Homo sapiens: one gene and its partner. The protein of the gene in region 2 interacts with the protein of the main gene of each other region in a pairwise test. Each region holds a gene or a part of one and is shown on either strand. Other genes may lie near its edges.

What was found.
Region 1: the proteins of RASGRP2 (region 2) and DISP3 interact in a two-hybrid assay, tested with the Homo sapiens proteins (one large-scale study listed by BioGRID and IntAct).

What each region holds. Positions count from the first base shown.
Region 1 is NC_000001.11:11,524,094-11,527,903, reverse strand, and holds part of DISP3 (protein dispatched homolog 3), read right to left. Parts: intron 2,729-3,810; coding exon 2,592-2,728; intron 1,254-2,591; coding exon 1,069-1,253; intron 1-1,068. UniProt on the Homo sapiens protein: Plays a role in neuronal proliferation and differentiation. Plays a role in the accumulation of cellular cholesterol. Involved in intracellular lipid droplet formation. May contribute to cholesterol homeostasis in neuronal cells.
Region 2 is NC_000011.10:64,737,333-64,741,142, forward strand, and holds part of RASGRP2 (RAS guanyl-releasing protein 2), read right to left. Parts: intron 3,748-3,810; coding exon 3,616-3,747; intron 3,118-3,615; exon of another isoform or gene 3,036-3,117; intron 2,832-3,035; coding exon 2,681-2,831; intron 2,478-2,680; coding exon 2,304-2,477; intron 2,145-2,303; coding exon 2,028-2,144; intron 1-2,027. UniProt on the Homo sapiens protein: Functions as a calcium- and DAG-regulated nucleotide exchange factor specifically activating Rap through the exchange of bound GDP for GTP. May also activate other GTPases such as RRAS, RRAS2, NRAS, KRAS but not HRAS.

The DNA of each region.
Region 1 (3,810 bases), on a different chromosome or scaffold from region 2:
GGTGACGTATGGAGAGAGGCTGGATGTGGCACTTGGAGAGGGACAGCCTCTCCCAAGAGGTGACTTTTGGACAGGGACTTGAATCTTGAGAAGTTGTCTCACACTTGAGGAGCTGGGAAAAGCATTCTAGGCACAGAGAGCAGTAAATGCAAAGGGCCTGAGATGGAAAGGGGCCTGGTATGCCAGAGGGACAGCCAGGTGGCCACTGCAACCCCTGAGGAGCTATCAAGGTGGGGAGCAGCTCCCGGGCCCGTCTCTTTGCCAATGTTCTCCACTCCCCAGCCCTGGGCAGAGACCCATCTGAGCAGGTAGGTGGAAATGGACAGCAGTTTCTTTTTCTCTTTTTTTTTTTTTTTGAGATGGAGTCTCGCTCTGTTGCCCAGGCTGGAGTGCAGAGGCGCGATCTCGGCTCACTGCAACCTCTGCCTCTGGGTTCAAGTGATTCTCCTGCCTCAGCCTCCTGAGTAGCTGGGATTACAGGTGCGTGCCACCATGCCTGGCTAATTTTTTGTATTTTTAGTAGAGAAGGAGTTTCACTGTGTTAGCCAGGATGGTCTCGATCGGCTGACCTCGTGATCCGCCCACCTCGGCCTCCCGAGGTGGGATTACAGGCATGAGCCACCGCACCTGGCCAGCAGTTTCTTAAAGGAGTCTGCTGGCATCCCTCAGGGCTGGGTGCAGTGGCTCACGCCTGTAATCCCAGCACTTTGGGAGGCCAAGGCAGGTGAATCACCTGAGCTCAGGAGTTTAAGACCAGCCTGGCCAACATGGCAAAACCCCATCTCTACTAAAAATACAAAAATTAAGCAGGTACCAGTGGTGGTGCATGTCTGTAATCCCAGCTACTCAGGAGGATGAGGCAGAAGAATCACTTGAACCTGGGAGGCAGAGGTTACAGTGAGCCAAGATTGTGCCACTGCACTCCAGCCTGGGCAACAGAGTAAGAAAAAAAAAAAAAAGTGAGGGGGCCTGCTGGCATCCCTCATGTGAAAAGAGAGAGAAAAGAGAGAAAAGGGCAAAGAAGCAGCCGGGCTGATGGGCACCGGCTTGTCTGCCAGGCTCTGTTACCGGGTGTGCTGCTGCTCCTTGGTGGCCACGTAGAAGCTGAAGTCAAACTTCCAGCCCCGCTTGGCATCACAGGCCAAGGTCGTCAGCATCCACTTGCGGGAGGGGCTCGCCGCCTGGAGCAGCCCTACTGTAGACATACAAGCGGTCAGCTTCTTGGTGAAGTTACCAAAAGGCGCTCTATACACCTAAGCAGTGGGTTGACAGAGACAAGACACATGACTCGGGGGGGCTGCCTCGGCCTGGGCCAGCCTCAGGCTCCGTCCCCTCCCTCCTCGGCATAGTTCACCCTGTCCCAGTCCTCGGAGTTGGGGACAGAGCCCTGGGCAGAGGCTTGGGAGGCCTGGGTTTGAGTTCAGCACTTGGGCAAATCCCTTCCTCCCTCTCTGAGCCTTGTTTCTTCCTTCAACAATCATTCACTGAGTGTCTGTCCCATGCCAGGCACTGTGCCAGGCTCTGAGGGGCACGGTCCCTGACCTCTTGGAGCTGGCAATGATGATGGCTTCCAAGAATAAGGAAGACAAGACAGGATAAATGGCAGGGAGAGGAGGGCAAGGCGAGAAAGGCGCCGGGGCAGGGCTCTGTGGGGACCAACAGGCATGTTGAGACCTGAACGAGCACCTAGGAGTCAGCCACGCACGAAGCTGAAGGAAAAGCTTTTCAGGCAGTGGGAACTGCACATGCGAGGCTTAGAGGCAGGAAAAGCCTCAGAGACCTCATCTTCCAAATGGAAATATAAATCCTGAACAAATGAATTGGCGCGTGTCCCTGTCACCATGGAGGGTGTGTACCACGTTAAAGAAACACAAATGAGCCTGGGCTACACAGAGAGACCCTGTCTCTACAAAAAATAAAAGATAAAATTAGCTGGCATGGTGGTGTGTGCCTGTGGTCACAGCTACTCAGGAGGCTGATGAGAGAGGATCGCTTGAGCCCAGGAGGTCGAGGCTGCAGTGAGCTATGATCATGCCACTGCACTCCAGCCTGGGTGACAGAGCAAGCCCCTGTCCTCCCCCCACCCCCAAGAAAAAGAAAAGAAACACAAATGACTCCCATGAAGGGGAAAACTCAAGTCTGGGCTCGGGGACTCCTTTCTGCAGCGCTGGAGCAGCTACCAAGGACAGCAAGATTCCTGGCCGCCACTGCCTGAGGAGGGACTGCACCCAGGCGTTCTGCACGGCACAGGCCTCACCTCACACCCCTCCAACAATGCTGGCTGGTGCTTGTTGCATCCCCATGTCACAGATGAGGAAACTGAGGCTCAGAGAGTAAGTAATCTGCCTAAAGACACACAGTTAATAAATGGCAGAGCCAGGATTTGAATCCAGGCCTGGCTGACTCAGAAGCCCACGCTGCTACCACTCGGCAGGTCCCTGTCACAGACATGGCTGGTTTAGGGGAGGGGGGTCTTCATCCTCAAAGCTGCTTCTCCCTCCCTATTGGCCAGGGCTGCCCACCAGTGTGGCCCTGAGAGCCCCCCACCACCCACAGTGGTGGCGGCTCACTTCACGACAGCCCAGGCTCACCTGGAAGGAGGGCACCTCTCCATCCCCAGGCGACACAGCCTGCCAAGGAGCAGGCAGGCTGGCATTGAGGGAGAGCCTGTAGACAGCGGGGTGGCCTTGACTCTTCACTTTAGAGATGTACACGGTGCCTGGGAAATCTACGGACAAATAAGGGATGAAAGAGGGGTGGACTTGACCTCGACTGGCTTCTCCTGACCCTGGAGCAGCCCACCCTCAGCTCTGTCGACTAACGAGCTCAGTCCTGGCCTTGGGCTCATCTCAAAATGCTGGCTGTGCCCCTCTCTACTGGACCAGGTCCATGGCAATAATAGTGGGGGAGGTGGTGGGCACAGGATGGGGTGGCAGGGATGGTGGGGGAGGTGGTGAGGGAGATAGTGGGCACAGAGATGGGGTGGCAGGGATGGTGGGGGAGATAGTGGGCACGGGGATGGGGTGGCAGAGATGGTGGGGGAGATAGGCACAGGGATGGGGTGGCAGGGATGATGGGGGAGATGGTAGGCACAGGGATGGGGTGGCAGGGATGATGGGGGAGATGGTAGGCACAGGGATGGGGTGGCAGGGATGGTGGGGGAGATGGTAGGCACAGGGATGGGGTGGCAGGGATGGTGGGGGAGGTGGTAGTCACTGGGATGGGGTGGCAGGGATGGTGGGCACAGGGATGGGGTAGGAGGGATGGTGGGGGAGGTCGTGGGCACTGGATGGGGTGGTAGGGATGGTGGGGGAGGTGGTAGTCACTGGGATGGGGTGGACTAGATAGCGGAGGTGACAGTGATGGAGGGCATCCTGCTGAAAATGTGCTAGTGTTGGTACAGGGCTGGTGCTGGGAGTGACAGTAGTAGGAGAGAGGTGGCAACAGTGCCATAGGGTGACAGGGACAGACACAGCTGCCTGATGGGGCATTCATTCCCCCAGTACACTTGACCCAGCACCCACCTCTGAGGGAGACTCCAGCAGGGACAAGCCAGTGTTCAGGGCCCAGGATGCCCACCTCTGCCCCTGGACACTCAGGGTGGCTTTGGTGCACAGGGAGGCTCTGGGGGCACCACAGACCAGGGTGTCGCGGGAGCCTACTGTCCTGGCGGGATGGGAGGTGAGGGCCCCAAATTCACCCCCCATCCCCAGCTCCTCTGCAGTGACCAGGAACACACAATCTCCTTCTTGAAGGAGAATCCAGAAGGAATTTTATCTGCTCTCCTTACAGGGCCTTCAACCCTAGCAC
Region 2 (3,810 bases):
TGACCTGGAAGAACATACTCAGCCACCCCGTCCAAACAGCAAAAACTGGAAAAACCAGCTGGGCGTGGTGGCTCACACTTGTAATCTCAGCACTTTGGGAGGCCATGGCAGATGGATCATGAGGTCAAGAGATGGAGACCATCTTGGCCAACATGGTGGAAACCTCATCTCTACTAAAAAAATACAAAAATTAGCCGGGTGTGGTGGTGCATGCCTGTAGTCCCAGCTACTCAGGAGGCTGAGGCAGGAGAATCGCTTGAACCCGGGAGGCAGAGGGTGCAGTGATGCAGTGAGCCAAATTAGCGTCACTGCACTCCAGCCTGGCGACAGAGCAAGACTCCATCTCAAAAAAAAAAAAAAAAAGAAAGAAAAAGAAAGAAAGAAAAGAAAAGGAAAAACCCCAACATTCAACAATAGAATCAATACATAAATTGGGGTAGGCTGGGGGCAGTGGCTCACACCTGTAATCCCAGCACTTTGGGAGGCTAAAGCGGGTGGATTGCCTGAGCTCAGGAGTTCAAGACCAGCCTCGGCAACATGGTGAAAGCCTGTCTCTACAAAAAATTAGCCAGACGTGGTGGTACGAGCCCATAATCCCAGCTACTCAGGAGGCTGAGGCACGAGAATCACGTAAACCCAGGAGACGGAAGTTGCAGTGATGAGATCTCGCCACCGCACTCCAGCCTGGATGACAGAGACAGACTCCATCTCAAAAAAATAAATAAATAAATGAATTGGGGTAGACGTACAATAAAATATTATATGGCAATGAAAATGAAAAAACAATTGCTCCACATGACAGAATGAAAAGACTCTCAGAACCATGTGGAATGAAAAAAGCAAGACATAAAATAACACAAACAACATTCCATTCATAGAAAGTTCAAAACAGACAACAAAAAGCCCCACATTGTTTTGGACCGCATACCTACATGGTGAAGCTATAAAGAAAAGCAAGATCATCATTGCAAAAGTCGTGGGGAGGGAGTTATGCTCTAAAGTGCTGGGCGCTTGGGGGCCTGGCAAGGTTCTATTTCCCAACCCGGGCAGTAGTTACACAGTGTTTTCTTTACAATTTTTCTTTAAACTATTCATATGTTTTTATATACTTTTCTTTTTTTTTAGATGGAGTCTCACTCTGTCGCCCAGGCTGGAGTGAAGTGGCACAATCTTGGCTCACTGCAACCTCCGCCTCCTGAGTTCAAGTAATTCTCCTCCTGCCTCAGCCTCCCAAGTAGCTTGGATTCCAGGTGCGTGCCACCATGCCTGGCTAATTTTTGTATTTTAGTAGAGATGGGTTTCCACCTTGTTGGCCAGGCTGGTCTCAAACTCCTGATGTCACGTGATCTGCCCACCTCAGCCTCCCAAAGTGCTGGGATTACAGGTGTGAGCTACTACGCCCAGTCTCATATGTTTTTATATACTTTTCTATATGTATGTTACTCAATACTTCAAAATACTTCAAAAATAATAAAAAATGAAGGAGAAAGAAAAGAAGAAACTACAAGTGGCAAGGCACAATGGCTCAAGCCATAATCTCAGCACTTTGGGAGGCCAAGGCAGGCGGATCACTTGAGCCCAGGAGTTCAAGACCAGTCTGGGCAACATGGCAAAACCCCATCTCTAAAAAAAAAAAAAAAAATTAATAACAATACAAAAATTAGGCATGGTGGCGTACACCTGTAGTCCCAGCTACTCAGGAGGCTGAGGTGGGAGGATCGATTGAGCTCAGGAGTTCAAGGCTGCAGTGAGCTTGTGACTGCACCACTGAACTCCAGTCTGGACAACAGAGAGAGAGACCCTGTCTTAAAAAAAAAAAAAAAAGTACTAGCTTTGGGGTCCCTGACGACCTGTGAGCCCCCACTCTGCTGTTGCCATTGTGCAAACTGAGAAAAGCACTTAACCCCTCTGAGCCTCCATTTCCATATCTATCAAATGAGGACAGCTGTGCCCAGCCCCCAGTGCTGCTGGGAGGACCCAGTGAAGACAGACCTGGGAAGCACCGGCCCCTCCCCAGTCCCAGGCACCTTGATGGTCTCAGGGCTAACGTGGCTGTGGGTCTCCTTGAGGCGGGAGATGGAGCTGTGGCTCAGGCCCCCGACCACTGCCATCAGCGTGTTGAAGTTCTGCAGCTGTAGCAGCTTCTGGAAGGCAAATGGGGACGGAGAGGCAGGGAGTCACTGAGTGGGCCCAGAATTTGGCCCAGCTTATCTAGAGAGAAGGCAGTGGGTTAGGGGAAGGGAAGGGTTGGCCTGACTGGCATGTGGGGTGGTTGGGAGACACCGGGAGGGAGGGGCAGGCACCTCCGCCACGTGGACAAAGTGTGTGATGACCAGGGCCCGCTGCGGGGCTGTGGGTTTGCTGAGGATCATGAGCTGCACCCACTGTGAGACGCTGTTGAAGAGGGAGATGAACCGCTCCAGGACGGGGTTGTCCACAGTGCAGCCATGAGTCACGAAACTGTGATAGTCCTGAAACTGGGGGCATGAGGAGTGGCCTCAGCACCTTGCTGGCCTCTCCCCTCACTGATAGCCACTCCTCACCCTCCAGCTGACCTTCAGTGGTTACACTGAAACCCCTGATGCACCCTGTGACCCAGCCTACGCCAGGGACCCTGCCCCTCCTAGAACTCTCTTCCAGCCCACATTGGACCCCTGACCCCCCAGCCCTCGGGCCGCACCAGGATCTTGCAGAAGGAGCGATACTCCAAGTAGGTGAGATGCTCCGCCAGCTCCATGGGCTCCAGGTGGTCAAACAACAGGGACATCTTGCGCTTTTTCTGTCCCACAGGGTTCCGCTGAGTCACCTGCCGCTTCCACTTGTAGGTAGGGCTGGGGGGGCAGGGGTAGTGAGCCCTTTGCTGGACATGCGCATGACTCGTGGCCCCCCACTCACACAGACACACCATTCACGCTTACTGAGAACCTACATAATGCGAGGCACTGTCCTAGGCACGAATGTTCCCAGTCCCAGCAACTCCTCCTCATCTCCCCCGACCCCGTCATGCACTCAACACACATTTATGAACAACGTACTCTGTGCCAGGCACTGTGCTAGGCGCTGGGAATACAGAGATGAGTAAGACACGGTTCCTGCCCTCGAGGAGCTCACAGTCTACTGAGGGAGACAGACACAGAAACACATGATCACAAAACAGCGTGACACATGTACAGAGGTCTTTGTACAGGAGTCTGTACAAAGTGCCATGGAAAACAGAGGTGGGAACGACAAATTCTACCCCGGAAGAGCCCCGAACCCTCAGAGCCCACGGAGACTTCATGCCTGAACTGAGTCTTGGTAACACGGAGGAGGCAGCAAGGGGGATGATATGAGCAGAGCACCATGATGAGAAAGGACTCGAGAGCTCAGCCGACGGGGAGCCGACCCAGCGCAGCTACAGGAGGAGGTGTGTGGGATGGGTGGTGGCAGTGGAAGATGAGGCAGGAACGCCAAGCTGCCCAGAGGAGGCATGTTGAAGGCAATAGGGAGCCATGGAAGGTTTTTAAGCGAGAGAGCAACATGACCCTCACTCATTCAGTTCAACAGACATTTATTAAGCACAGATGGTATAGGATACTGAGTGCCCCCCCAGCCCTCTGTGCTCCCCCCACGCACACGCTGTCTATGTCGATTAGGCTGCTGTGCCGTCGGTTCCCTTCTTGGTCTAGCAGAGCCTTCAGCTCCTTGATCTGCTCAGCCAACTCCGGGTTCAAGTCAAACTCCGCTGGGAAGGCGGAGATCCAGTACCTGGAGGAGCGGGGAGTCACCCAAGATAGCCCTTCCCCCACCATCACCCAGCAGGCTGCAAGG